Homo sapiens: one gene and its partners. The protein of the gene in region 2 interacts with the protein of the main gene of each other region in a pairwise test. Each region holds a gene or a part of one and is shown on either strand. Other genes may lie near its edges.

Evidence for each region.
Region 1: the proteins of HMG20A (region 2) and RPP30 interact in binary tests that used the Homo sapiens proteins (3 or more experiments, as listed by UniProt).
Region 3: the proteins of HMG20A (region 2) and LURAP1 interact in binary tests that used the Homo sapiens proteins (3 or more experiments, as listed by UniProt).
Region 4: the proteins of HMG20A (region 2) and KRT1 interact in binary tests that used the Homo sapiens proteins (3 or more experiments, as listed by UniProt).

Annotation. Positions count from the first base shown.
Region 1 is NC_000010.11:90,895,642-90,903,119, reverse strand, and holds the end of RPP30 (ribonuclease P protein subunit p30), read right to left. Parts: intron 7,241-7,478; coding exon 7,203-7,240; intron 6,808-7,202; coding exon 6,728-6,807; intron 2,551-6,727; coding exon 2,441-2,550; 3' UTR 929-2,440; downstream 1-928. UniProt on the Homo sapiens protein: Component of ribonuclease P, a ribonucleoprotein complex that generates mature tRNA molecules by cleaving their 5'-ends. Also a component of the MRP ribonuclease complex, which cleaves pre-rRNA sequences.
Region 2 is NC_000015.10:77,465,530-77,473,289, reverse strand, and holds part of HMG20A (high mobility group protein 20A), read right to left. Parts: intron 6,196-7,760; coding exon 5,983-6,195; intron 2,381-5,982; coding exon 2,248-2,380; intron 1,508-2,247; coding exon 1,476-1,507; intron 1-1,475. UniProt on the Homo sapiens protein: Plays a role in neuronal differentiation as chromatin-associated protein. Acts as inhibitor of HMG20B. Overcomes the repressive effects of the neuronal silencer REST and induces the activation of neuronal-specific genes.
Region 3 is NC_000001.11:46,199,030-46,206,764, reverse strand, and holds the start of LURAP1 (leucine rich adaptor protein 1), read right to left. Parts: upstream 3,432-7,735; 5' UTR 3,339-3,431; coding exon 3,141-3,338; intron 1-3,140. UniProt on the Homo sapiens protein: Acts as an activator of the canonical NF-kappa-B pathway and drive the production of pro-inflammatory cytokines. Promotes the antigen (Ag)-presenting and priming function of dendritic cells via the canonical NF-kappa-B pathway.
Region 4 is NC_000012.12:52,677,026-52,684,937, forward strand, and holds the start of KRT1 (keratin, type II cytoskeletal 1), read right to left. Parts: upstream 3,383-7,912; 5' UTR 3,324-3,382; coding exon 2,733-3,323; intron 1,732-2,732; coding exon 1,517-1,731; intron 1,199-1,516; coding exon 1,138-1,198; intron 721-1,137; coding exon 625-720; intron 456-624; coding exon 291-455; intron 160-290; coding exon 34-159; intron 1-33. UniProt on the Homo sapiens protein: May regulate the activity of kinases such as PKC and SRC via binding to integrin beta-1 (ITB1) and the receptor of activated protein C kinase 1 (RACK1). In complex with C1QBP is a high affinity receptor for kininogen-1/HMWK.

The DNA of each region.
Region 1 (7,478 bases), on a different chromosome or scaffold from region 2:
TTTGTTATCCTTCTCATATCTAATTTGACAGCAGTTCTTTGTAATGACTCTTTTCCAAACCTTTCCAAAGTGTTGACTTAGTTTTCCCGGGAATTTTTCATTTGCCCCCAATAGCTCATCAATTTTCATATTTAAAAAAATAATTTACATACAATGCTAAACACAGCTGCCTTAAACAGATTTGTGAATAAACACAGCTGACTTTTGGTGAACTTAAGCAGGGTGAAGGAAAAAAGCAAACTGGCACACAAGGAAGTGGCAGACTTTTGGTGTGTGGCCTCAGCAGCACCAGCCTCAGTTTTACAGAAGGAATGAGTAGGTTAATCCATCAAATTGGCCAAGCGGTAGTCAAAAATGCTTTTGGAGCCATCACATTTAATATACACAAAAAACAGACACATATGAACATATATATGTATGCATACAATATTATTCTACTTTAATTTTGCCATGGGTTTTTATTGTTGTCATTTTAAAAATCAGGAGTGGATTTAACTTTATTAAATGTCTTTCTGGCATCTATTAAAAATATTCTGATTTTTCTCTTTTGACCTATGAATATGATAAAGGATACTGCATTAAAAAGAACTGGAAGGCCGGGTATGGTGGCTCATGCCTGTGCCTGTAATCCCAGCACTTTGGGATGCTGAGGCGGACAGACTGCTTGAATCTGCCAGGAGTTTGAGACTAGCCTGGACATGGCAAAACCCCATCTCTACAAAAAAATACAAAAATTAGCTGGGATGTGGTGGTGCATGCTTCTGGTCCCACTTACTTGGGAGGCTGAGGTGGGAGGATGGCTTGAGCCCAAGAGGCAAAGGTTGCAGTGAGCCGAGATTGTGCCACTGCACTCCAGCCTGGGTGACAGAGTGAGACCCTGTCTCAAAAAGAAGAAGAAAAAAAGAATAAATTTCACCTGGTCATGATGCACTTTTAATGTTTTTTTAATCAATATTTTATTTAAACATTTGTATTCATTGGTGAGGTTATAAAGCTTTCTCTTTTTAAAACTGTATTTTCTCGGGCCGGGCGCAGTGGCTAACGCCTGTAATCCCAGCACTTTGGGAGGCCGAGGCGGGTGGAATATGAGGTCAGGAGATTGAGACCATCCTGGCTAACACGGTGAAACCCCGTCTCTGCTAAATACATGGCGAGCGCCTGTAGTCCCAGCTACTCAGGAGGCTGAGGCAGGAGAATGGCATGAACCCAGGAGGCGGAGCTTGCAGTGAGCAGAGATCGAGCCACTGCACTCCAGCCTGGGGGACAGAGCGAGACTGTCTCAAAAAAAAAAAAAAAAATTGTATTTTCTCCAACCCGCAGAACAGTTGTCTTTCTCTTGCTTAAAAAAATTTCTTATTCAGTTATACCTCTGGCTCTACTCCATTGTTTTAGAGCCCTTACATTAATATTGCATAAATGCATGTATTTGCATAAAAAGCTACTTCTACTTAACATGATCCCATTATAAAAATAAATTATTTCCAAAGTTGGTTCAGTCCGATGCTTTGCTATTTTTAATACAGCTATCAGGAAAATCAATATTAGCGTTTTAGGGGTTTCTAACTAAAAGTAAGGAATCCTATTTCAAAGACCTTACGTAGGCATGAAGCAGTGAAGGAAGAGACCAGATGTAATTTTACATGTGTATCCTCTCTCCTTCCACAAATTCTATAGCAATTTCTTAGAAAAAAATGCTGATTTGAATACATGAAAGAAGCTTAAAACAAGAGGAACTAAAGTCACTTCTTCAATATAAGTTTGAATATCTTCAAAATAACTACTATTTGAGTATGAACAAGAAACTTTCGAAAGAAGCTCTTAAAATATTCAAACATCTGGCTGCATGTGGTGGCTCATGTAATCCCAGCACTTTAGGAGGCCAAAGCGGGAGGATGGCTTGATCCTAGGAGTTTGAGACCAGCCTCAGCAACATAGTGAGACCATGTCTCTACAAGGGAAAAAAAAAAAAAAAAAAAAAATAGCCAGGTGTGGTAGTGCACACCTGTAGTTCCCGCTGCTTGAGAGGCTGAAGCGGGAGGATCACTTGAGCCCAGGATTGAGGTTGCAGTGAGCTGTGATTATGCCACTGTACTCCAGCCTGAGCAACAAAGACCCTATCTCAAAAACAAAATGAAACAAAAATACCTGAAACATTTTATTCAAGTATATTTGCTGTTGTTTATCACTTACACAAAGGAGAAATAACCAGTCTTTCTCTCTTAAAGTACATCTAAATTCATTAAGCTGGCAGCCTTTTAAAAAGATGCTTCACTAGGTTTCGTTTGTTGTTTTAATGGATTGCAAGTAAAACTGTTTTTATAGACTATTGATTTCTAGCTCCAAATGAAAACAGTAAATCACACAAAGGTTTTATTTTTGTTGTGGCTGATGAACTATAAAAGGGAAGAAGGGAGTGCTGACAGAGACTGGGGCATTCTTTTCAGCCCTCACACTTGGCTTTCTTGGAAGCTGGAAGACAATCTTCATCTCCTTCTGATGGCCGAGGTTTCTTCACTGTAGAGATAATTCCAAAAGCAGTTTTTCTAGTTTCTGTAAAACAAACAGGGAAACCACTGTGCTTGAAGTTAAGACATAATTTAAAATGAGGTGGTTTAACATATTACTTTGGCTTACAGCAATAGCAAATGATAAGCCATAATGAACTGCTATGGCTGCTAGTGCCATTTACCGTCATTATCTTTTTTTCCCAACAGACACAAATATCAGTATATTATTAACATCTAATTCATTCCTAAAGATTACCTCATGGGTAAAACTGCAGGACAGTGTTATCTCTAATGGTCTGTCCATGGCATCTTATGTAGCCAGAACCCAGTCACAGACATTGATGTAGCAGACACTTTATATATGGTAGACAGACAAATCAAGAGAGCAAACACAGCAATCAAGTGTATGGCTCCCATGTGGAGCACATGCTTGCCTCATTTTACAGCATGTACCCTATCTCTCTTATTAGAACATCAAGGTACCTCTGAAGAATCAATTGCATTATATTGCCAACACTCAACAATGGCCTGGTTATGCAAAATGTGTTCAGTAAATACTAGTTGAGTTAATGAATAAAATCACTCATAAATTTATTGATCTCTTTAACTGGTGACAATGAACAAAGAATAAATAGAAATTATTAAATGCTTAGATTAGGCTGGCAGCAGAGTTCAACTTAAATTTAACCAATTTTTCCTAGAAACCTACTAATAGGCTAGGCACTGTGTCCATACAGAGGGTATTAAGATTCCTAACAGACAGTGCTTTTCCCTATACTACATGCATGCGAGAAGCACAATAAGAGCAAATATAATAGGAATGGAGGCATCCACAAGAATTAACTGCCTGGTTAAAGCAATGAGGTATTATATAAAGGTGACACTACTCAGAATAGGGTAAACGGAGTAAGAAAAAGAGAAATATTCCTTTACAAAGGCATGGAGAGAAAGATAAGAAGAACCTAGGTAAAATAGTTTAGGGGACAATATGGCTGATGTGAAGTAGGAATACAAAAAAATTAGGAGAAAATAGAGTTTGGAAGGGTAACTTATGAAAGGCCATAGTGTCATGAAAACAGACCCAAACTCTGTCCTTAGAAATGGAAAGGGATTATGGAGAAAGAGAGAGATACCCATTAGCTACAAAGGTGGCAGAATCAAAAGAACTTGAACAGAAATTTAGCTATGAATTATTCCTTATTTCAAGTAATAAACGTAAAGTCAACCATAAAGTGTTAAGCATTATTTTCCCATTTATCAAGATTAACTTAGTAAATCTACTCTGCCAATTATTTTAAAACACTTTTATTTGTAAAAGGGATAAAACTGCTCTCAAGGTCATTAAAATGCCAACATAATAAGAACCTCAAAATAAAAACTGTCAATGATTTCCATTTCACCAAATGAAAAACGTCACACTTATAGCTATTAATTTATGTCACTGATTCTGTACCCATAGTCTAAAAATCAACTGAAATATAAACATTATGAAAATCAGCACTTTTTAACAAAATGCATTAATTTCTTTAGTGTCTTTTAAAAATAAATGCATTTCTTGGTAACAGCAAGACGTTACATTTGTGTATGCTTTAGTTTATAAAATGTTTTCACATATAGTATTTCCTTTAATCATCTTGCCAAGGAAAATCTAAAGGATTATCTACGAGTGAATAATTTTGTTCACAAGGGGCTAAGGCAGGTGTCCCCAACAGGTTCATTTTGGTCCAGGGGCTGATTGAGGGCATGAACTTTATCAATCACAGGCCAAAGACCCTGACCTTGGGCCTCTTTCCTCTGTCCTTTCCCCACAACCTCCTCAGAATTGCTATTCATTGGTTTCTAGATTTCTGGACCCCCAAAGAACCTAATTCTGATTTCCTGTGGCAAGCCTTCCAAGTTGAAAGCTAACTACCATGTGTCCCAACTCTTCTGCTTGCCAGGTATCCATGTCTGCACCACCCTCGTGATTCCTCTCATCATGAGGCTTCCAGACCCTTTAAGGACTGAGTAGACATTTTCCAATAGTGTTTCAGTGCACTGCTGTCCTTCTTAAATGTGGCACTCAGAATGATACAGATGCCGGCTGAGATTTCATCAATGAGAGTATAATAACGAGGCTTTGAATTTCCTTGTCTCAGAATCCTTTATTTCTTCTAATATTACCTAGGCTGAATTAGCAATCTTAAGAACACATCATACTACCGTCTCATACTGATCCCAATGGCAACGAAAACCAGGGTAACCATATTTTATCATCTAGTTTAGGACTCTCTTCAGGGAATAGAAGTGCTAATAAGGTCACAGAAACAGCAGGCATAAACTAGAACTGTCCTGGGTACACTGGGGTGAATGGTAATGCCACCCAAAGTTCACAAGTCTTCTTTAAGTTTAGCTTCTATAAAAGCCTGATTTTAGACACAGAAAGACAAACATCACATGTTCTCACTTGTTTGTGGGATCTAAAAATCAAAGCAACTGAACTCCTGGAGACAGAAAGTAGAAGGATGGTTACCAGAGGCTGGGAAGGGTAGTGGGGGGCTGAGAGGGAGGTGAAGATGGTTAATGGGTACAAAAAAAATAGAATGAACAAGGTCTAGTATATGATAGCACAAGAGGGTGACCATAGTCAATACAATTTAATTGTATATTTAAAAATAACTAAAAAAGCATAATTGGATTGTTTATAACACAAGACATATGCTTGAGGGGATGGACACCCCATTTTCCATGATGTAATTATTATGCATTGCATGCCTATATCAAAATATCTCAGTACCCCATAAATATATACACATACTATGTACCCACAAAAAGAAATTCTAAAAAAAAATACTTTACATATTATGTGTTATATGCTGAATAGCTGAGTTCTTAAAGTCAAATGCAGGACTTCCTATTTTCCTATATATAAAATTATGTATGTATTTATATTTTAGTTTCTGTTTCTTGTTTAGTCCATTTTGGAACCCCAACTGTTACTCAAAATCCTGATGAATGTTTATTTAAAATAGATCAAAATAATGACAGAACTATCAAAGTGTGAACCAACTGTTCCCTAATTTCAAGAAAATCATTATTCAAAATCTCCATTAATTTGACCACTCCCAAAGCTTATGTGATGAGTTCTAGGCTACATAATACAAAAATCTCAAACTAAAAATGTTGAAACTAAAAGCAAAATCATCTAATTTACGGCAAGCCAATACATAAGCAGTTCTCTCAAGTGGAAATCAGATCAATAAAGCCCAACACACAAGCCCTCAATAACCTAGCTATTCATATGACAAATAACTCAGTCTATATGTAGCAATCTACTTTGAAGTTTAAAATTCACTTGGGTGATATCAATGAAATTGCTTCTTAACCACTACAACTAGTCCTAAGAATTATAAAGATAACGAAGACAAAACAGTGATCAAAAGCTTAAATTGTTTTAATAAAATTTCACTTTCATTTTCCAAAGTTTCAGCATACTTTCAATTTTTAACATCTGATGAGCAGGAAACTCAGTCAGTGAAAAGGTACATATACAAAATGTGAGTAAAAAATGTACAGTCTGGCCGGGCATGGTGGCTCATGTCTGTAATCCTAGCACTTTGGGAGGCTGAGGTAGGAGGATTGCTTGAGCCCAGGAGTTCAAGACCAGCCTGGGCAACATAGTGAGACTCTGTCTCTATTTAGAAAAAGAAAAAAAAATAAAAAAGGTACAGTCTGGACACAACTTGACCATGTAAGCAAACATGAGAAAAGAAACATTCTGAGTTATAATAAATGTAAAAGTTACAGTCTATGTTTTGTTAGTTGGATTTTTAAAAATGTATTTGCTGGTTTTGTTTTCCTAATAAATAGTTTAACACATATTTTTAACATATCCGTTCTCTAAAACAGAGATTTTCAACAGGGAAAGCATGGCCTTCTGGTGAGGGAGAAGAAGGAAGGGAGATTAGAAGCCTATCAAAATGTCGGCAGGAGCACACATGTATAGCTGGAAGAACTATTCAATACTTATTTCTGTAATGAAAACTATATTCATTCTACAAACTTTAGAAAGTAAAGCCTGAAGTGAGGGTGAGAAAACACTGATGACTGTGTTTAGAACAGGTTGAGAAAAGATGATCCCAAAGGAACTCTGTAGGGTAGGGCAATAAAAATAGGTATGGCTGTAAAAATGACTTGCTTTTAACATGACCATTCAGTTTGTACTGGAAGAACTTGCTTACCTCCATGGAGAAGCGCTGCTCGGCAGTTGGTGGACACCGCAGCCTTGGCGTCACTTTCAGAGAGCCCAAACAGCAAGCCTCTTGGGGGAGCATTAAAGATTTCAACCCAGAGTCACCCAAGGACACGAGACTAACACAAACATAACAGAAAGTGCCAGCTAACCTGGTCATCTTGAGAGGCTAATTAATTCAACAGCAGTTCTTAGTCCAACTGGAACATGCATCTGAGAAAAGACTCATTTAACTCTAAGCTTTTATCATATGAAGTCCCTCATTCCCTCTTTTCTATCTCATGATTAATTAAAAAACAGAAGCATAAAGCTCTCTATAATGTTATATAATTTATTTTTGAAGTTATTAATTGGTAAACTTACAGTAAAAGGTTGAGAAAAATACATGTTCAACTATAATACGACTTCAAATTCAAAATTTCCTGAAAGACAATGTCAACAACTTTTTACTCAGAAAAGGATACAGATTTGCCACGTCATATGGCCCTCTTATTTCTAAAGGCTGAAATAAAATGAACAAAGAGTAGATATGAGAAAATTATTTATAACATTTCAATGACTTATAGCAAATTAATAGAAAATTTAAGTATCCAAAAATAAAAAAATTACATAAATTTAAGTCCTTATAATTTTGATGGGTTTCATAGCTTTTGAAAATATAAGAGAAGCTTGAAAGGCATTTTGTAACAGTATAAAAGAAAAACTGATTATATAAACAAAAGTTGAAGCCTAAAGAAAGT
Region 2 (7,760 bases):
CATACAAAGTTTCTCCAGCAAAACAACATAACATTTCATCCTAATTAGAGCATAGAATGTCATATATAATTACATTTATATAGGATTTATCTGAAGAATAAAATGTAAATATTTACTATGCTTCTCACTTTATAATTCATAGATGGTAATAACGTCTATTTGACCTGTGAATCTGAATCTTTTCTCTATGTTTTAAGGTAACCAACATTTCCTTGATTTAGTAAAAAACCAAACACATGTAAAAGAGTACATCAGAAAATTCTTTTTGTTCAAATTCTCAGTTATTTCAGGTCAACTTTGAATAGATTCCATAAAATAATCATTTGTGGAATACCTTCTCAAGGCAAAGGTATCATGATAGGTGGTATGGGGTTGGATATAAAGATGGAAACTAGACTGTGTATGTCCACAAAGACATTACAACCAAAGAGTGTGAGCCCTTGAATTACCTCAAAACCCCTAGGTCAGATCAGCTAAGCACATAACACAAGTATAGAGAGCCATGAGGGTTAAAGGAAGTTAGAGGAAACAAGAAAAGTTTGAAGGAGAAAACAGAATTTGAAACAACACACACACCTAAATCCCATACACACACAGAAACACAGGCCTAAATCCTAACAATGGGGCTGAACCAAGTGGGAGGAAAGAAGCCAGTACACAAACATGTGCTAGTGAAGTGAGGGAATAGGAAAGGAGGTGTGAGAACTGAGATACTGGGCCGGGCGTGGTGGCTCACGCCTGTAATCCCAGCATTTTGGGAGGCCAAGGCGGGTGGATCATGAGGTCAGGAGATCGAGACCATCCTGGCTCATATGATGAAACCCTGTCTCTACTAAAAATACAGAAAATTAGCCGGGTATGATGGCACGAGCCTGTAGTCCCAGCTACTCGGGAGGCTGAGGCAGGAGAATTGCTTGAACCCGGGAGGCGGAGGTTGCAGTGGGCTGAGATTGTGCCACTGCACTCCAGCCTGGGCGACAGAGTGAGACTCTATCTCAAAAAAACAAAAAACAAAACAAAACAAAAAACAAACCTGAGATACTGTCGCTTGTGCTCTATCGACATTGTAGTTGAACAGTTCGCTTTAAGCAAATGCTGGATTCTTTAAATAACAACTTTTCTGAGAGTCAGATTTAAGTATTTGGTGATGATAAACTATGGTCATGTTATAGCTTTCAGCTAGCCCTCATTTCTATACTTCATTCCAAATTCCAGCCATCTTTGGCATTTAAAGCCAATAAAATTCTCAGATCACAGGAAAGGATTGAGGTTAGGGGCTGTAGTTCAATGACAGACACACAACGTAAGTGTCTGCCATATGCTAAGAACCCCCAAGCTAAAGTATCTCATTTAATCTGAATTACGAGATAGGAAATACTTTGCCATTCATTAAAAAAAAAAAAATCCAATAGCATTTCAAAAAGCAACATTATTATAAATACATATATATGATATGTAGACAGATGGCTAATTACCTCATGATCATGAGTGGCCTGCCGGGCTGCATCTAAAAATATAAAAGAATAAGAGAACATTACATTTAAAAAGAAAGCAATAACAAAACCCAAGTATACGACTCTGCCAAACTATAAAACCTGCTTGTATATGTAGATTCTCATAACATATGATATTTTTCCTTAAGGCTTTATTAATCGGTCAGCCAACAAAAGTAAGGGAACCCCATGCCTACAGAATTCATAATTAGGCATAAGAGAAACAGCAGACACAGTTCTTAACTTTAGGGAGAAAAGGGTGGAAGAGTGGACAGAAGACACAAACCAAAGACTACTTATACAACATCTATAATTTTAGCAGGCTAGATGCCCAAGTATAGAGAAGATGCAATGGCTAAGGAAAAATAGGCTAGTTGTGGATGGTGCTTCAAAAATGACACATGAAAGGCTTAGAAGTGTTAAAGGGAAGTTACTGATATAATTTTGTAGATAGGCTTGCTTACAGGCAGAGAAATGCCTAAACTGGGAATCAGGAAAAGAAGGGCAGGCAACTAACAGGGGTCTCGGAGGACAAGTCAAAATCATTGATAATAGACACGGAAACCCAGTTGAAATTTCTAAATGAGAGCAATGTGATTTTAATAAAATTTCAAGATAATGCTTGTAAGTGAATACTGGATAGTGGAGAAAAAACAGAAACACATCTTTTATAGTTACCACTCTTAACAGTTGGCTTTATGACACTCCATCACCCACAACAAACTACAAATACATTTGGTTCTGGTTTTGATACCTTGCCTATGAGATTTGCCTTTCTGACGGTCCTGGGTTTTCCTACTGAAGACCTTGTAGGCCTCTGTTTTCTGATACTGTTCCAGTTCCTTCATGTAACGCTCCTTATCTCTGTCTGCTTCATCAAGGTAGCGCTAGGAAAGAAATACAGAATTATTTTCAAGAAAATGAGATCCTATTTAAATAAAATTAAATTACCTATTTGAAGAAAACAGGACAATTAGAACATGGGAAGAAAAGAATATAGGGAATATGCCTTAAAAAAGAATCAGAAAAACAAGAGTTGTATGAATAGAATAAAATATAACCTCTCAATTATAAAAGTAAATAGGTCATTATGAGTTTTTAGAATATTTATTGCCTTTTCTAACCTAATGAAGACAAGTTCTATTGAGATCATTCTTATAAAAAATTCATGAAGATGATTAGAGTTATTCTTCTAACTCTATAGATAGAACTCTATATGGCCACTAGAGTCATCCTCATGAGATGTGCACACCACATAGGCACACTTAGTCTTCCCAAGGGAAGGAACAGAATATTACTTTGTTTTGCTGTCTCCAGCCCATTTTGAGGGGATGATGTCATACATCAATTGGCCCTTTAAGAGCCAGGAGGTTGGAGCAATGAAGCTGGGAGACACAAAGAACATAAAAATAATGACCTCATCCTATGGACCTAAAAATGGACTACTCTGAGAGAACCTATATCTACATGCTTTGATTGCTTTGTGCTATTAATTATTTAAACAAAGTTCATTGATCTACCAGGATTATTTTGTTTAATGCTTTGCCCTTTTCATTCATCAAAATGAAGTATAAGAAAGTATAAAAATACTGCTTCTAAATGAACAGAAAACACACTCAGAAATTATGTTAAACACTTTGTCCCGCGTAAGAGCCAGATGTAGGGGATACTCAACTGGCCAAATCTGGTACAATTTAAGCACCAAAATAATTAAGTACAGTAATAAATTATAAACTAGTAGAAAAAACTTCATACTATTATTAGTATGATTTATAACAGACACAATACCAATGATTTGTTACCATACAAATACAATAAATGGGTGTAGAGGCTGAGCGTGGTGGCTCACGCACGTAATCCCAACATTTTGGGAGACCGAGGTGGGTGGATCACTTGAGGTCAGGAGTTCAAGACCACACTGGTCAACATGCTGAAACCCCATCTCTACTAAAAATACAAAAATTAGCTGGGTGTGATGGTGCACGCCTGTAGTCCCAGCTACTTGGGAAGCTGAGGCTAGAGAATCGCTTGAACCTGGGAGGTGGAGGTTGCAATGAGCCGAGAGTGTGCCACCGCACTCCAGTTTGGGCGACAGAGCAAGATTCCATCTCAAAAAACAAACAAACAAACAAACAAACAAATAAATAAATGGGGGTAGGGGGTCGGGCATGGTGGCTCATATCTGTAATCACAGGATGTTGGGAGGCCAAGGCAAGAGGAGGACTGCTTGAGCCCAGATGTTTGAGTCCAGCCTAGGCAACAAAGTGAGATCCCATCTCTACAAAACATAAAATAATTAGCCAGTTTTGGTGGTGTGTGCTACTTAGGAGGCTAAGGTGGGAGGGGTGCTTGAGACCAGGAGGTCAAGGTTGCAGTAAGCCAAGATCTTGCTTAGATTAGAATGCTGAAGGCTACCTGGTAAATGTAAAGGGAGTGCTGGAGTTGGAAAAATCATCACGTTGTAACCATAATGATAAAGATTAAATCAGGCAAAAATAATCAATGGATGCTAAATCTAGGGGAAAATGTTGATGTAAAACAGGCTGTTTGTATGTTCTTAAATCGTCTCCCCATAGATTACTTATTAATGACAAAGGAGAATTTAAATAATGTACCAGGTAAGCAAAATTAACATTACTAGTGAGAAACAAAAGGACATTGTGTGCCTGCATATGTGACATATTGAGAACACACCACCACCTATGCAAGTAATCCCACCAAGAATGCGCAACCTCAATCTAATCACAAGGAAACATCTGAAAAATACACAATGAGCAATGTTCTGTTAAAGGTAAAAGCAGCGGGGGAAGCAGAAGGGAACTGTATTTTAAAAAAATATCAATGTTATAAAAGAAAAAGAAAGATTATGGAAATATCCCAGTTTAAGCTAAAGAAACTTGACTACTAAACACAAAACCTGACCCTAGACTGGAACCTGTTTTGGAAGGGAAAAATGTTATAAAGAAATGACATTCAGTCAACATATAGATGACAGATTAAAGCACTGTTAATGAAAAATTATGAAATTGATGACTACACTATGGTTATATAAGAAAATATTCTTTGACATACACACTGAAATATCCTGGGGGTAAAGGGCTACAATGTATATAATTTATCCTCACATGATTAAAACAAAATTTTGTGTGTGTCTGGGTGTACACATGCAAGTGTGTGTGTGTGTGTGTGTGTGTGTGTGACAGAGAGAGAGAGAGAGAGAGAGAAAGACTGAGCATGCAAAAGTATAAGAAAGACTGAGCATATAAGTGCATATGCAAATGGAGAAATGGAATAAAATGTGTTAACAATAGGTGAATCTGGGTAAAGAGTGTTGGGATGTTCTTTGTATTATTTTTATGTTTGTAACTTTTTGTGTATTTGAAATTATTTCCAAAAAAAGTTAAAAAAACAAAAACAAACACAAAACCTTTGTCCTACGTAATAGTGGTTATCCCAAGAAATAAGCACTGTTATTTTTACATTTTTGTTTATACATTTCTGTATTCTCTGAAAAGAGAATAATGAGCACATATTAATTTTAAAATAAAGAAAAAAAAGAAAAGAATAGCATAGTATGTACAGCCCACTATCCTTTTATACAGTAGCGCCAAAACAATGGATGATATTCACTGCTTTCTACTAGCTTGCTACCACAAACACAGAGCTTCAAAAGTTGCAACTGAATCTGATCTCTTTGAAAATTTCTGAATTCAATTAATTCCCAGGAGAGTATTTCTCCATTTGGTTTTAGTGTGTCTGGAATCCTTTTTAAAAAGTGTAAGTCATAAAAGAGTTTAAGACGTAAAAGAAATACAGATATCTTTCAGATGCTGGGAATGCTGGGAACTTTTAACCCAAAGCAGCTCCCACAACCATGACCACTGCTCAGCTTTAGTGGTACTTCAACCAGCTCATGGCTATCTTGTCCTTAATTCCTTTCAAATCTCTCTAATGAACGGATTCATTTCAGTTTGCCCATCAGGTTAGTTTCTGTCTTAGAGGAGAAAGAATTCAAGTTGTTCTTGCTTTATTTTCAATAGTAGGTTAATTTGCCAGAACTCTAGTTAAAAAAAGTATTAAAGCAGTAACATTTTTTCTTAAAAATCTTATGTGAACTGCAGAATTGTGTCAAGTGACTTTTTCTCATTTAATTCACGACTTTTCATTTAACTCAGTGGAATACATTTTATTGACAGATTTCTTAATACTGAACCACTTAAAACAATCTTATGTGAACTCAGCGTATAAAAAGTGGTGTTGCTTTGGTTGAGGGGAGTCCTAGACTCCTTCCCTGCTCACACCCCTCTAGCAAATAGTTTAAAAATCACTAGGCTAGAGAAAATTGCTATGATGGACCCTGCTATTCTGGTCTCCTAGGCACTGTGACAAAACTGCAGAATCAACTGTCCATCCTCTTTGCTTTTCTTATATAAGTTATTTCTGAGATATAATCAAAACCAAACAAAGAGTCAGGAATAGGAACAATTACCTGTTTTTCCTCAGGAGGCAGTTTACTCCATTCATTGCCTAACATCCTTGTGATTTCTGGAAATGGGACTTCTGGTCTCTTTGCTCGAAGTTGTTCTCGACGCTCATTCATGAACCGAACATATCCTGTAAGGGGGGATTTGGGTGCATTGCTGTCTCGAAGAGGTTTCTTCCTCTTTCTTCCTTTGGACCAACCTCCTCGTTTACTTCGTTGCTACAAAACAAAACAAAATAAAAAACCAAAAACCAAACAACAACCATCTCCCAAAATAACCCAACAACAACAAAAACAAACAACAACAAACAAAACAGGATTAAGAGTTGCAATTTGGCCCTGGATATTCAAAGCTCTCCACATCTGTTGTAGGTAATATACAAATGACAGCAATGCAATTTTTGAGGAACTCCAGATGCTTCACTTGCAACCTCTTTTATGTATCACACTACAAAATGTTACACTAAAGGGCTATTTTTGTGCTAATCTCAATGTATGAGAATAAGAGGTGCCATGATCACTCAGCTTTGACCTTCATATGCATATGACTGTCCCACAGACAACTGTCAGGTCCTGATTCCTGACAGGAGAGTATCCAAATGGGAAATACAGCAGCACATGCAGCATTGTGGCAGGGAGGCAGACATTGTCAGATTAGAGTAAGATGGTGTCACGTGCACCAGGCAAAAGAAGAAACAAGTTGTAGCAGAAATTAAAAATAACTCACAATGGGAGTTGCTCATTGATAACTTTCAAAGACTAGCTTATTTCCCATAGCAGATAGCAGATAGCATAGCATAGCAGATAGATACTAAATTAATATCTAAGTCTCAGAAAAATTTTAGTAAGTATAATATATCTGAAATGAAGACGAGCTCTTTGGCTTGACAATTTGTTCCTTTAGATGTACATTTTATTTTAATTTTTTTTTTGAGGTAGAGTTTTGCTCTTCTTGCCCAGGCTGTAGTGCAATGGCGCTATCTCGGCTCACCGCAACCTCCGCCTCCCAGGTTCAAGTGATTCTCCTGCCTTAGTCTTCCAAGTAGCTGGGATTACAGGCATGTGCCACCACACCCAGCTAATTTTTGTATTTTCAGTAGAGATGGGGTTTTGCCATGTTGATCAGGCTGGTCTCGAACTCCTGACCTCAGGTGATCCACCAGCCTCAGCCTCCCAAAGTGCTGGGATTATAGGCGTGATCCACTGCACCCGGCCTAGATGTACATTTTATAGTCAGAGGTCTTTATATGTTGAGTTACCAGGTAAATCAAAAGATTGAATCACCTCTGAAAAAAACTAAAGAAATGAAAAGGACTGAGGTACCACTGATGTTTCACCACAGCCTTTCTTCTTGGCCCTTTAAATAAGATGTAAGGTACATAATATTTTTACTTCATAATTTTACAAATACAGCCGTATCAGTTAATATTTCATGGATACAAGAATTCTTATTTCAGACAAGAGAAATATAAATAAACAAGGACAAAAATATCTAAATACTAATTGTAGTACTCTACTCCTCCAAATATATATAAAATGGTATAATTCACCACTGGGCAAATTATGTATTTGGTATTAGGTTTTTCTTTTTTTAAACCTAGTTACATTAAAGCTACTGTGGGCTGGCACGGTGGTTCACACCTGTAATCCCAGCACTTTGGAGGGCCAAGGCAGGCGGATCACTTGAGGTCAGAATTTCGAGACCAGCCTGGTCAACACGGAGAAACTCCATCTCCACTGAAAATACAAAATTGCCTGGGCATGATGGCATGTGCCTGTAATCC
Region 3 (7,735 bases), on a different chromosome or scaffold from region 2:
TGACCCCTTTGATGGTTCCCAGGATTCAGGGGTCTGGGTTGTAGTGTGTTGCTGGGAAATAAATCTGAGAGCAGATTCTATAATCCTGTGGCAGTGGGATTCCCTGACTGTGACAGCATCACTCCCAGAATAGAAGAAAGCAAGGTTTTCTTGCCAGAAAAAGAAACACTCTTTTCACACCATCTCTTGAAGAAAATAGAGTATAGGATAAACAGCTCAGGAGAGATGCAGCCTCAGAGGCGACTCCAAACCCAATTCTCCTTCCAAGGAGATTCAGGCTCCCTACTCCTCTCCTTAACATCTACATACCAGACTCTCTGCCCAGCGCTGGGGTCCTGTATGGTTTCCTCATTGCTCAATATAAATCAGGCCCTAGGGTAAAAGCCTGGAAATCCCAGTCCGAGCTCCCAGAGCGGGGACTATCAGAATATTGTTACTATAAAGGTTCTTAACAATCATCTGGTTTCACAGTCCCCATCTCCCTCTACCCCCTCCACCAAAAGGAGGAAAAACTGAGGCCAGGAGAGAGACAGAGTGCTGCTCAAGACCACAAAACGTTTCAGAAGCAGAGCCAAGACTTGAACCCGTGCATTCTTCCTTGCCTAAAGCTTTTTCTCAAACTGCCTCTGTGGAGGTGGGTTGTCATAGCAACAGTTCTTTGGGTGGGAGAACTAAGAAGAAGTTGCCACTGTTTCCCATTCCCACATATCCCAGTCTGGCTTGTTCACTCAACCTTTGAATGGAGGGTAGAGGAAGAAAGCAGGAGGGACGAGGCCTAGAGGCAGGACTGACCTTGGCCTCAAGGGTAGGCCTTCCCCCTTTGTGCAAGGAGAGCTGGGAGAGGAACAATTGAAGGACAGTCCTTAGAGGGCTTGAACCAGTCCTGCCTTCAGTAGCCCGAAGGCAAATCCCTTGCCCCACCCCTTGTCCTTCCTGGGTGCAACCCAGTAGGCAGGGCAGAGCACAAGAAGAGATTAATATTAATAACATCCTGGCCTGAGGAAGGAGAAAAAATAGGATGGGGATCTCTCCTCATTCTGGCCCCAGAAGGCTCCCTCCCTTGTGCCCTTTCTCGGGCAGCCTCAGGCCCCAGGCAAGCTGGGTCAAGAATACAGAGAGACAAAATCAAAAGTTAAATGCAGCCCCTTAAAGTTTACAGATAGTTTCCACCAAGGCAGAGAAGAGAGCCAGAGACTGGGCGTGGCTCTTCCACTGACTCCCTATGTGAGTTCAGAATCTGCAAGCACGTTTTATCTGTAAGATGGGAGAAATGATGACCAGTTTTCTCATTTCAATGACATAAAATGTTCAGACTATCTGGCACAAAGCAGGTCTCAAAGTAAAGATGCAAAGTGCAGTCAGATGATCTGGGTTCAAATCATGGCCCTGCTTTTTGCGTGATGTTGGGCAGTTATTAAACTCCCTGTGCCTCTGTTTTCTTTTCTTTTCTCCTCCCTCCCTCCCTTCCTCCCTTCCTCCCCTTCTTCCCCTTCTTTTTTTGAGACAGGGTCTAGCTCTGAGCTCTGTCACCCAGGCTGGAGTGCAGTGGTGCGATTTCAGCTCACTGCAACCTCCTCTTCCTGGGCTCAAGTGATCCTCCTGCCTCTGCCTCCAGAGTAGCTAGGACTACAGGCACACACCACAACACCCATCTAATTTTTGTATTTTTTGTAGAGACAGGGTCTTGCTTTGTTGCCCAGGCTGGTCTCAAACTCCTGGGCTCAAGCGATCTGCCTGCCTCGGCCTCCCAAAGTGCTGGGATTACAGGCGTGAGCCACCATGCCCACCCTGTGCCTCAGTTTCTCCATCTATAAAATATCACTTAACAGGGTTACTGTGGAGATGAAGAGAGCATCATGTAAAGTGCTCAGCAAGCTGCCTGGCACATGCACTGGGTGAAAGTTTTCAAAGCAAGTAGACAGTCTAGATAGGCTCTTACTAGGCCTTGAGCTAAAGTTTGTACAGTGAGGCAAAGGCAAGCCCCCGCTTAGGTGGGTACAGTCACAGCCTTGCTCTGGAGAATTGGGCACTCACCTCCAACCTTCAAGGCCAAGTGCACACTTGGCATTCAAGTCCTTCTCCCAGGGGGCCTTTCCTGACTGCTCCACCCACCAGACTCTCTTCCCAGCCTCTCAGCTCAGGCGTCGGAGCCCTGGCTGGTCTCAGAGCCCCCATGATTTCCTTCCCCTTCTCCTTCACAGACCAGCTTGGCACAGGCTGGGCACACAGGAAGACTTTAGCTGACGTACTCACTGTGGGCTCCTGGTTGTGAGCCAGGAAGCCGATGGCAATTCCTCAGTTCCCCAGAACTGGCTGCAAAGTAGTGGCAGGTGTAAATCACCCACTTCACCGGAATCAGGGCCCTGGGGAACCTGCCAGGGCCTCGGCTGCCCTTTTGGCTCTGAATCTAGACCAGCAGCAATAGAGAAAGGGGAGGGTTGCTGTTTCCTCTTCTCCCCAAGAATGTACAGATGAGATCCAAATATCCAGTTTACCTGGAAGACTGGCTGGGAGGAGACTGAGTCTGAGGCGAGGGAATCAGCACCAGTGGTGCTGCTACTCTCTGTCCCTGCTATGGGTCTAGGAACTTTCCATTATTTTAAGTAGGGCTGGGGGATGTAGAGGAAACGGAGAAGGTTTTCAGTGCCCCTGGTCCAGGTAGTTTTCAGCAGATAGGCCCCTTTACCCACTTCTTTTCTGTGCGGAACACTGCGGCCTCACAGGAACTTAAACCCTTTCCCGGTTAGCAGAAGGAGAAAAAACCGGTTGCCTTACAACGGGGACTGGCGGGGAATAGGTGGCCCATACAGGCGGGGGGAATTTGTGCTGCGTTGGGTTCTCAGTACTTCCCAGTCCTCATCTCTCTCCTCCCAATTATTTGGCAGGAATAACTTCCAAAACCCACTGCTCCCAACCCAAGTCCTCAGGACCATCAACACCCCACTCACTCTTGGGGGACAAGTAATGGACGTCACTCCATCTCCACCCCAGCGTTTACGGATTGATCTGGGAGGGATTCTGAGCAGTTAGGTGGAGAGTTTTAACTACCTCCTCTCCAGCTTAACTCTGGGAGCATGAGTTCGTCCCTCCCGGCCCTACACTAGGGACTCGTCCCCTTGGCCCATGGATTCAGCACTCACCAGCTCCATCTTCAGCGCCATGATCTTGTCCCCCAAGTCGTGGCCGGTGCTAGACGCCCCTGGGAGCAGCAGGGCGCCAGAGGTTCCCAGCTCACACTCGCCTCGCAGCCCGCGGAGCAGCCCTTCAGGGGTCTTCCTGCCCACCTTACCCTCCACATCCCGCAGGTCAGGCGTCTGGGACTCCACGGTCCCCTCCATGCGGGCCCAAGCCTGAAAAGGGCTGGGCGACCGGACGCCGGGGACCGGCTCCCGGGGGTCCTCCCTTCGCCGCTGCTAAAGCGGAGCAAAACCGGTGGGTCCCCGCCCGCGCGGCGCGGGGGCGGGAGGAGGGCGCCGTAACACTCAGAAAAGCCGCGCAGCACCGTCTGTGGATGTATTCGAGTGCTGCGCACACAACCTCTGGCCCTGGATTGCGTGGGGCTGGGCGATTCTGGAGTTGGACCTGAAAGAGCACTCGGAGACCTCAGCGCCTTCGCCCCACCCTGGCACTGAATCCAGCCAGGCACACAGCAGGCGCCCAATACATGTTTGCAGAATGAAGTCTAAGCAGCTTCAGTCAGAGATGTGGGAGTTTAAGGAACAGCGGTAACAGAGAGCTGCAGAGGGCTTGGAAGTCTTCCTGGAGCAGAGGAATTGGGTATAAAACGATGACTGGATTTTAGCTAGACACACACACACACACACACACACACACACACACACACCACCCCCCCCCCCCAGGGGCTAGAATTCAGGCTAACGGAGTAGAAAAGGGCAACCAGTACTGAAGCTGAAGAGGTCCACGTTGGGCTTACAAGCAAGATGCTCCTTAAGCTTGACTGTGCGTATGAATTATCTGCGGATCTTGTTAAAATGTAGGTTCTGATTTTGTAAATCTGGGGTGGGGCTTGAGATCCTGCATTTTTTTTTTTTTTTTTTTTTTTTTTTTGAGACAGAGTCTCGCTCTGTCGCCCAGGATGTAGCGTGGTGGCGCGATCTTGGCTCACTACAAACCTCTGCCTCCCTGGGTTCAAGCAATTCTCCTGCCTCTGCCTCCTGAGTAGCTGGGATTACAGGCATGCGCCACCATGCCCAGCTAATATTTTTGTATTTTTAGTAGAGACAGGGTTTCACCATGTTGGCCAGGCTGGTCTTGAACTCCTGACTTCAAGTGATCCGCCTGCCTTGGCCTCCCAAAGTGCTGGGATTACAGGTGTGAGCCACTGCGCCCAGCCAAGATCCTGCATTTCTAATAAGCTCCCAGGTGATGGCCATGCTGCTGGTCCACACTTCAAGTAATAAGGGACCACACTTTGAGTAACAAGGTTACAGAAAATGGTTCTGAGATGTTTGGGTTTTATTTAACAGGTAATGAACAGCCATGAAAACTCTGGTTTGTTTAGGCTTTTAATTCAAGTAATTCCAGCCCATGGTTGCAGAAGGATTTACAATGAGAAGATAGTTACCCCTACCCTACCCTTTCACACCTCTAGGCCCACTCCCAATTGGCAAAAAATAACTTTTAGTTTTTTTTTTTCTTTTGGTGTTCATACCCATAACGTTATTGTTTAGAGTTAACTAAAAGTGGTTGCCAATTGGGAGTGGGCCTAGAGGTGTGAAAGGGTAGGGTAGGAGTAACTATCCTCTTATTGTAAATCCTACCACTATTTTTTCTTTTTTAGAGACAGGGTCTTCCTACATTGCCCAGGCTGGACTCAAACTCCTGGGCTCAAGCAATCCTCCTGCCTCCCAAGCAGCTGTGACTACAGGAGTATGCCACCATGCCCAGCCACACTACTTCTCAATTTTAAACATTCATCTGCTGTTTATTGTCCTATTCAGATAAATATGGATATATGGGTTTAACTCACACTCTGTAGTTCCTTTCCCCCATTGGCAATATATATTTCTTTTCTTTTCTTTCTTTTTTCTTTTTTTTTTTTTTTTTGAGATGGAGTCTCACTCTGTCGCCCAGGCTGGAGTGCAGTGGCACGATCTTGACTCACTGCAACCTGCCCTCCTGGGTTCAAGCGATTCTCCTGCCTCAGCCTCCTGAGTAGCTGGGATTACAGGCACGTGCCACCATGCCCGACTAATTTTTGTATTTTTAGTAGAGACGGGGGTTTCACCATGTTGGTCAGGCTGGTCTCGAACTCTTGACCTCGTGATCTGCCTGCCTCAGCCTCCCAAAGTGCTGGGATTACAGGTGTGAGCCACTGCGCCCGGCCTGGCACTACATATTTCTATCACTCTTTTTAGTTCATCTAAGGTTACCTTTGTAATTAACTTTTTTTAAAATTTAGATAGAGTCTCGCTATGTTGCCCAGGCTGGTCTCGAACTCCTGGCCTCAAGCAATCCTCCCACCTTAGCCTCCCAAAGTGCTGGGATTACAGGCATGAGCCACCATGCCTGGCCTACCTTTATAATTTTAAGTAACATCATTTTCCTTGGTACTTTTTGATCCATGGAAGGGTTTTAAGTTAGAGATAGACAAAACATTTGTCTTTTTTTTTTGAGACAGAGTCCGGCTCTGTTGCCCAGGCTGGAGTGCAGTGGCACCATCTTGGCTCATTGCAACTTCTGCCTCCCAGGTTCAAGCCATTCTCCTGCCTCAGCCTCCTGAGTAACTGGAATTACAGGCACCTGCCACAACACCCAGCTAATTCTTGTATTTTTAGTAGAGACGGGGTTTCACCATGTTGGCCAGGCGGATCCATCCGCCTCAGGTGATCCACCCGCCTTGGCCTCCCAAAGTGCCGGGATTACAGGCATGAGCCACCGAACCCGGCAACATTTGCCTTAAAGAAAATCACTCTGGATTTTGCAAGGAGAAAAGGATAGGAGGAGTAAAAATCTAGAGTCAAGGAGACTGGCTGGAAAGCAAGAAACTGAAATGGCCTGCACTGGGGCTGATTGTGAGGTCAAAGAAGAATTAGACTAGAATGGAAGGCTCTTTAGGAGGTAAGACTGACAGGACTAGGTGACTGGTTACATTCATTTATAGTGGCATTCAATAAAAATTTGTTAAAAAATACAAATGAATGATTTCAACAAATGTTACGGAGAGCTTACTATGTGCCAGCCTTTGTGTGTGGTGTAGAGAATACAATGGTGAGCAAGACATACCTGGACTGGTCACTGGAGACAGACAAGGAGTCAAGGGTGACTCCCAGCTGTTTGGCCTGGTGCAGTTCACTGAGGAGGGGAACCCACAGGAAATCTAGGAGTGAAAGGAAATGATTCCAGAAGTTGTGCTGTTGCGTTAGAGGGGCCTGTGAAGATGTCCTGCTGGACATCAGGCAGCCTGGAGCTCAGGAAAGAGGTTAGAACTGCCAATGTCAGTTTGGGCATCTAGATTGGTAACAGAGGTCATGAGAGAATGAGATCATCCATGAAGAGTCAGTTTGAGGAGAAAAGAGGGTCAGGAAGGAACCCTGAGGGACATCTTTTAATTATTTATTTTTATTTTTTTATTTTTTGAGACGGAGTCTTGCTCTGTCACTCAGGCTGGAGTGCAGTGGTGCAATCTCAACTGCAACTTCTGTCTCCCAGGTTCAAGCGATTCTCCTGCTTCAGCCTCCTGAGTAGCTACGATTATAGGCGCCTGTCACCACGCCCAGCTAACTTTTGTATTTTTAGTAGAGACGGGGTTTCACCGCGTTGGGCAGGCTGGTCTCAAACTCCTGACCTCAACTGACCACCCCACCTCGGCCTCCCAACCTGCTGGGATTACGTGAGTCATGGTGCCCAGCCGGGACATCTTTTCAAATGTAATAAAATGTGTTGGGTTTTCTTCCATTCTTATACATACTTACTAGGAAAAATCATGTATTTCTTTAACTCCTAAGACAAGTACTGTTAACATTTCATTTTGGGGGATATTACCCCACCATTCAGGAAGCAGATGGAATACAGAAAGCTCAAAAAAATCTAACTGGTCTTCTGGCTTCCTCTGTCTGCTTCCAACCCATTCTCCACAAAAAAAGTAAAGGTTCTCTTAAAACAGAAATTGGATTATATTGCTCCCCTGCCTAAAACTGTTCTATGGCTATCCACTTCAAACAAGCATCAACATCACCTAGAAACTTCTCAGGAATGCAAAATCCCACCCTGCCCCAGACCACTGAATCTAAAACTCTAGGGATGGGGCCCAGCACCTCTGTTTTAAGAAGTCATCCAGGTGATTCTGACGCAAGCTAAAGTTTGAGAACCATTGTGTTAAGCTAACTGCTTTCTATGTATGATGTTATTTAAACCTGGCAATTCTTATGTATTGTTGCCAGCAGAGTGCAGTGGTTAAGAGCAGAATCTGGAGCTAGGCTGAGTTTCAATTCCACCTCTCCTAGCTTTGTGATATTAGGTCTTATTTCTTTATCTGCGACAGGGATAGTAATAGCGCCTATAGCCAGCACGGTGGCTCACTGCCCATAATCCCAGCACTTTGGGAGGCCAAGGCGGGCGGATCACTTGAGGTCAGAAGTTCAAGACCAGCCTGGCCAACATGGTGAAACCCCGTCTCTACTAAAAATATAAAAATTAGCTGGGTGTGGTGGCGCACGACCGTAGTCCCAGCTACTCAGGAGGCTGAGGCAGGAGAATCGCTTGAACCCAGAAG
Region 4 (7,912 bases), on a different chromosome or scaffold from region 2:
TACAGCTGAGTGGTAGAAGGAGAAAGCACATACCTGCTTCTTGACATTGTCGATTTCAGATCTAAGTCTCTGGATCACACGATTCAGCTCAGAAATTTCTATCTTTGAATTTCTCACACTATCCCCATGTCTGCCAGCAGTGATCTGCAGCTCTTCATACTAAAGATGGTAGATAGCGTTTGTTAAATGTAGGCAGAACTCAGCATGGCACAGGCACACATACATGAGATAACACAGGATAGCAAGACAAGCCATTTCAGGGAAACTGGCTAGGCTTTCAGCCCACTCACCTTGCTCTGGTACAAGGACTCGGCCTCAGCTTTGCTCTTCTGGGCTATATCCTCGTACTGGGCCTTGACCTCAGCAATGATGCTGTCCAGGTCGAGACTGCGGTTGTTGTCCATAGAGAGGATGACATTAGTTTCACTGATTTGAGTCTGCATCTGAGACAACTCCTGCAAGACATAATAGGTTAGTGACTCTTACAGCACTAAAACAAAAAACAACTTAGACAGAGAAAGCAGTCAGAAAATAAAAGATAAATATCTATTCTTCTGAATCGTTGTGGGTTCAGGCTTAAAAACTCTCCATTTAGATAAACTTGGTTGAAACTGGAAGACTTACTGCTTGGTAGAGTGCTGTAAGGAAATCAATTTCCTGCTGCAAGTTGTCAAGTTTGGCCTGAAGGTCCACCTTGGTCATATAAGCACCATCCACATCCTAGAGGAACAAGGGACATCATGAAGGCACATTCTCTCCAGGGCAGGTCCCTCTCATTACCTGTGAGGGGATTCTCCAAGCAAAAAAAGGAGCTTTGGGTCTACTCCACTCCTTTTTGCCCCAGGTAAATCACAGTTCCCTAACTGTCCCACCCCCGGATAGCACCATCAAGGGAGTGTGCCTGGCTTGCTGAGAATCTGCCACTCCACTTACTATGTAAGGTGCTGGGAAATATGGAGAAGCCAAGTGCCTGGATCAGTCCAGGTCCATGATGATGTGAAAATATAGCCCCACTCCATATACTCCCCAGGTCTACTACCTGGCTCTCCATATCATGGCTGCTTTCTGCTTAGTAATTGGAGACCCTCTTCCCTTATTTATTTCAAATGTGAGTTCCGTCCTACAGAATTTGCTTACCTTCTTGATGGTCACAAATTCATTCTCTGCATTTGTCCGCTTGTTGATTTCATCCTCATACCTGCAGGAAAGCAGAAACAATTAGGAGATTCAGAGGTGGTAAGACCTGAAGTCCAGCATTCTAAACTAAAGGTGGCATTGCCTATCACTGCCTTTCTATTATGAACCTAGGACATATTGGCCACTACTTTCTACTGAGCAATAAAACCACTAGACTATTTCCATCTCCTGAGAAAATGAAGATTTCTGAAAATGTCAAACTGATGTGCCTCTAACCTAAGAAAAGACATAGCTACATGCTGCTTCATGATCTTAGCTTATTACTTTCTGGAACTCTTTTACAGCAAAAGTTAAGAACTGCCCAGACAGGGTCCCTTACTTGTTCCGGTAATCCTCCACCATGTCCTGCATGTTCTTCAGTTCCGAATCCAACCGAGATTGATCACTCTTCAGTTGGTCCACTCTCCTTCGGAGATTGTTGATGAATGACTCAAAGTAGGGCTCTAAATTATGGGTTCTAGTGGAGGTATCTACCTGCTGCAGCAGCTCCCATTTTGTTTGCAGTACCTGGTTCTGCTGCTCCAGGAACCTCACCTAAAAACACAAGACCCCTTTACTCCTGATGCATAAATGGAGTCTCATAGCCATGGAGAACTGTGCCTCATTTGGAAAAGAACCTCAATTCCTATCTTCTGACCATGACAGAGAAATAGGAAGAAGATGATCAAGTTAATATCATCTGCATAATAAAACCCAACTTGTTAATTCAGAGAGGGCTTGGAAGGGAGTAACTAAACAAATACCAATAGCAAAGCGCATACAGAATTATTGCAATTATGTTTTGAAATAGGTGCATGGTATTTAAGAGATTTGCCTTCCAAAATTTTGTTAGGTATATTACCATAAAAACTGGTTTGCATCCCCAGGACACACACACATTTCAAAAGTATATCAGGAAAATTCAAAATTGGATTTGAAATTTGTTGTGGATAACCTTGGATTGGCACTATTAATGATTAAGCAAAAAATTAAAAAAATGGTTTATCTGAGTTTTTTAGAGCTGATTTTTGGAGATATTAGTATAAAAAAACTCTAGCCTCATCCAGTACCAATGTAAAATTATTAGAAGGCAGAGCTCCCCTCTGACAGCAAAAGATGTTTGGCACTGACTGACCACATGTTTTCTGCTACAATAACACTCTATACTATGTTCACACTCAACTCCCTTTCTATGGTTAGGAAGACCTTTCCAGGGTTCTCACTTGCACCCTGGAAAGTTCAGTTAGCCCCATTTCTATTATCTTCATTCAACAGATATGAGTCCCAATTCCGCTCAAGAGCTGAATAAAAAGCACTTAAATGTTAATGTCACACTGACCCACCTTTAGGTCGACCACGAACCCTTTGTCAAAGAGAGAGTCATTAACACCATTCACAAGCATACATCTAACATATCTCCTAGGAGACCATTCCACAAAACATCCTTTTAATCATGTAAACATGGAAACTTGAGGTTCAAACCTACTGTGTTTTGACTGCACCAATCCCAAGTGGACCAGCGGCAGCCCTACCAGTGCAATGAGAGAGAAACTCACCTTGTCAATGAAGGAGGCAAATTGGTTGTTGAGTGACTTGATTTGCTCCCTTTCTCGAGACTTCACCTTTTGGATCTCAGGGTCAATCTCCACATTGAGGGGCTGAAGAAGGCTCTGGTTGATAGTGACTTCTTGTATGCCACCAGGAGGGCAGACAGGACCATAACCACCCCCATATCCACCACCCCCAAAGCCACCTCCACCAAAACCACCACCACCACTGCCAAAACCACCAAAGCCACCACCCCCAATGCCACCTCCACCAAAGCCACCACCACCAAAGCCACCACCACCAAAGCCACCACCACCATAACCACCACCAAAGCCACTACCACGTCCACCTCCTCTAGCCACACTTATGGAGATGCTTTTACTGCCACCAAGGTTAACAAGACTCCGACTTCCAAATCCACCACCAGCACCAAAGCTACCACCACCACCACCACAGCTTGAAAATCTCCCACCACCTCCTCCACTGCGGCGTGTGGAGCTGCTGGTGGTCCTGCGCTGGTAGTTGATGATCCCAGCAGAGCCAGAGCTGAAGCCCCCTCCACTTCGGTACCCAGACCTGGAACTAAACTGTCGACTCATGTTGACTTAGAGAAAAGTAGGAGCAAGGTAGAGTAAGGGAAGGAGCTAAACACTCCTCTACCCCAAGCATAGAGACTTCCCCTTATATACAGGGAAGAAATTGGGCTTGGTCTTCTAGAGTCAGCGGAGATGCAGTGCCTGTCAAGGGTTTGGCTTGCCTGCAGCCATACAAGATTTTTACGAGCCTCAACAATACGATAAACACTACACACCTAGCTCCCAGGATGGGCTCTCAAAATTGCTGTGCATGCAAGATTGGTTCATGTGGTAATTATTTTATCACACAAGATCTTCCTTCAAGCATTTGTGGCTTTGGGAAAACAGGACCCCACATCTGATACCTGGTGTTTCTTGGTAGGATTTCATAACCCCCATCAAAAAGGCATGAAAGTTTCTATTCTCACCTTGCCTTTGTGAGCTACCAAGCACACTCTCTTACCATGCACAGCAGGTGCAATTCCCCGTGCTTGGATCTCAGAAGGAGCTCTCTGGCCCATTTCTAAGATCTTCTTTCCAAACTCCAGAGCTCACTCAGTTACAACCTGACAAAGAGAAAGGGCTTTAATAACTAAAAAATTAAAAGGTCTTTCATAAATATAAGCTTTATAAATATACCACAGTGATTAATTAAAGGAAGAGAAGCTGTCATTGAACAAGATGGATGAGTGGGTGGTCTGGAAGAACCAGAAGGGAGAGACATTTTTTTTCTCTGTTTCTCAGTTATTCCTTTTCTTGTTTCTTTTCTTCAAAGATAGAGCAGGAGACAGACACCAGCAATAGAAAACAGGTAGCAATGGATAGCATGCAAACGCCCTTGAGTGAAAAAGCCCACAGAGCAGTGAGACGAGTAAATAGAAGCTCTAGGACATTTTGTAAAGCACAGGGGTGGAGGTGAGGCTTGATAGGTGATTCAAGCCTCACACTGGACTGCAAAGAGAGAGAGATAAATGCAGATTTGGAAGGGAAGACAATGAGAGGTGTCTGGAGAGCCTTATATGAGAAGTTTAAATTGTTTCTGGAGGTGATAATAATGATAATACCTAACATGTATCAAAAACTGACCATGTACCAGGCACTGTTCTACGTAGCACATATGTATTAACTTGCTTAATTTTCACAACTTTGAGATAGATGCTATTTTTCTCCCCATTTGTAAAATGAGGAAGCAGAGACACAGGGGTTGAATAACGTGATCAAGTCTACACAGTTGGTAAGTGGGGTGCCTGCGATTTGAAGCAAGAATACCTAGCTATCATGTGCAAGATCCTAAACAGCATGTTGTACGACAGCACAGCAGCCGAATTCAAGTCATTCTGCCTGCTGTGTGTAAAGCCAGACAGCACAGGAAGCGCCCCACCACAGAGAGCTCTGAGGGCAGAAGGCCTGTTTTATCACTCTGAGTCCTTGGCTCCTGGCACATGCAAGTCTTGGAAAATGTTTCTTCAATTCACACTGAGAAGGAGATTTTGGTGGCACAGAGTTTAGTGAGGAGATTTTACTTCCATCCAAGTGCAAGAGTACCCAGCATGCATTGCAATGGACCAGGAAACCTCAGGGGTCTTCCTGGAGAGCAGCACTTGATCAATATCAGTGGATAATAGTGGCACTGAGATCTGGACACACTAGAAGCCCAAGCAGACTTTCATTCGAAGACTTCTTAGAAGCCTGGCATGGTCCCCGGGCCTGCACATAAACACAGAATTGAAGACTCAAAGGGGAGAAGCCAGCTCTAACTTCAGCTGGCTCCAAGTAACTCTGTAAGTGGCAAACCATAGATGTACATGGGAAGTCTCCACTATGGTGTGCAAGATCTATGGGAGAAAGGGAGTCTGTGAAGATCATCTGGTCCCATTACTCTGTGGCTCTGAATCGGGCTGGCTGTGTCGGTCCTCTCCATTGCACTCCGCTATTGAACCTTGTCCCTCTTCTCCTCCCAGTTTTTGCCCTATACCCTCCTCCAGAAAGTGCCCCTCACCGCTCCCCTGCTACTCCTCTCCCTCGCCATCACTGTGGCACTGCTGTCTGGGACTCTGTCCTAGCACTAAAATCCTTCGGCTGCTAAACCAACCATCTCTTTAGGGAATGAGTAATTCAGGTCTTGTTAGGAACAATGGAGACTGGGACAGTCTTGGCATGGTAATGACTGTTGCCTAATCATTTTCTGACAAGCAATCAAAATTATTTTAGTTCAGCATACTCCCTCATGAGACATATTGTTCTGCACAATCGATTCCTTCTAGCATTTTGGAGGGGTGTGAGTATGTGTGTGCACACATGTTTGTGTGCACACATGTTTGTGTGCATGTGTGTGCCAGCCAAAAACAGACCTTGGCAGTGATCCACACTCCCATCTTTGAACTAAGAAACTGACATACAGAAAAATCAAAGGTTTGAATGAATGGTCAGGGAATTGGTAGACAACTTAGCTGCAAAACATACCCCAGGTGCTCCTGTGAGAAGGGAGAAATGCAGGACTAGCAGGAATAAGTGCCATAAACCTCACCATAGCTTACATTTGCACAGCTCACCCCACCAAACACATATGCAAAGAGCATCCCACAAGAGCCCTGAGAACTAGGCAATCAAGCTGTTCTCAACCCATTTCATGAAACAGAAAACTGATTCTCAGAGATTAAGTGGCTTCCTCTAGACACTCCGGCTAGGAAAAGACACATCTGGAAGCAGAATCTGGGTTTTCTGATTTCAATTCAAGTGACATTCCTCCCTGAACCGGGAAGAGGCTCAAAGACAGGCAAGTGGAACTGGGCCCTATAAACAAGTACACAGAGAATTACAGAATGTTCTCATCCATGGGGCCTCAAAGGTCACATCATCTAACCTGCCTCACAGAGAAGTGAGAGCACAGGCCCAAAAAAGTAAAAAAAAAAAAAAAAAAAAAAAAAAGTGTCCAAGTCATAAGTCAATTCCTGAGACTCTTCCAATTGTTGAATCAAACTCCTTTTCTTTTTCCACTGCCCACTTTCGAGGCAGCCCAACAGAGCTGGAGCTGCAGTGCTGCCAGACCAGGCCCGTCATCTCCTGTGATGTCCCCAGGATCAGTGTGGGTGTGTGGGATATGAAGAACCACATGCAGGAAAGGTGTGAGCCACACACTCTCTCCTGGCTTACTTATGTACTGTGCATTTATGAAATAAAGACAAAATGAGAAAGAAAGAGACACTAACATCTACAGGCAGCAACTATGCTGTTAGGAGCCACATTGCATTTAAATACCACACAAAGTCTGCGTCGTGGGAGCTCTTAGCCCCATTTTAAAGAAAAGGCATCTTAGGTTTATAGAGGTTGAAATATGTGCCCAAAGTCATCCAGCAGGTAACTGACAAGCCACGCTTGCCTCACTCCAGAGTCCAAGCCCGCCGCATCACATGGGCTCCTTCTGTCATTGGCCTGCTCTCACCACCAGCACCACCTACATCTTACCCTGCTCACCCACTCCCCCGGCCTCACGCCTTGACCCCTTCACTCTCGTGCTTTGCCCAGACTGATCAACCCTCTTCTTCCCTTTCCATCCCTGTTCCTCTCTGTCTTCCAAGCCCACTTCTACTCTTCTCTTTTCTGAAAGGTCTTCTGGTTGCCTCGGCAACTTGCCACAAATCCCTACCCATAGTCAAGCTCTGGGGCACCAAAGATCTCAATTCCTGAGCATTTGGTCCTGAATCTGTTTTTGGTCCATCAGGGCTTGTGGGCAAATGCCTTCATCTCTCGCTCAAGCAGGCAGCAGACAGGTCCAGATCTCATCTCCTCCAGGGAGTTTTCCTCAGTCCACATCGGGCAAGTGCTCTATTGGTCTCTTTTTCCAAGCTCGGCTGCTGCCAGACTTAGTACATATTGATGCATTTGTTGGCTCATTTTCATGCATGTGCTTGTGTGTTTCCTGGCCCCTCAATCACTCTGGAAGCCTTTGGAAAGCAAGACTAAGTCCCCTGTGTCTTTTGATGTCCTCCCAGCATCCCACATGGCCCCTTATACTTGAGAGTTACCCCAGCGGTGCTGGATGACAGAGCACCAAAACACCCCCACCCAAGGACTCACACACACAACCCAGAACTGATCATTGAGATGAGGCTGCCAGGGGCTGGCTGTGGGGCATGGGCAGGAGCAGGTGTGGTGATGTTTTGAGAGCTTTTGTGGGATGGGACCAAGAAAAGAGTGAAGAAAGACATGCAGTGACAAGCCACCCAGCCCTGAGGGACTCCACCAGGGACATGGGACAGGGAAATCCCAGGGGAGTGAGGAAAATTGAGGCCTGGGTGGAGTGAAGAGAAATCACAGACAATGGGGAGGCGGGGCGAGATGTTGAAAGCAGCCAGGCAGCAGAGGAGGGGCCAAGGCTTCTTATGCAGGAGGGAGAGCTGCAGACAGAGGGGCAGCCCTATTTAGGATGGACAGCAAAGAAGGAGGTCCTCAGGAGTCACTCACTAGCAAGGCTGGAGCAGAGCAGAGGCCAGGAAGGAGGAAACCAAAGATGAACATGGAGGAGAGAGGCGGTGGGGCCCATCTTGCTCTGTGCCATGGAGGCTGCCAGGCCTGGGCTCCGCTCCTGATTCTGCACTGCTCTAGGCAGGTCA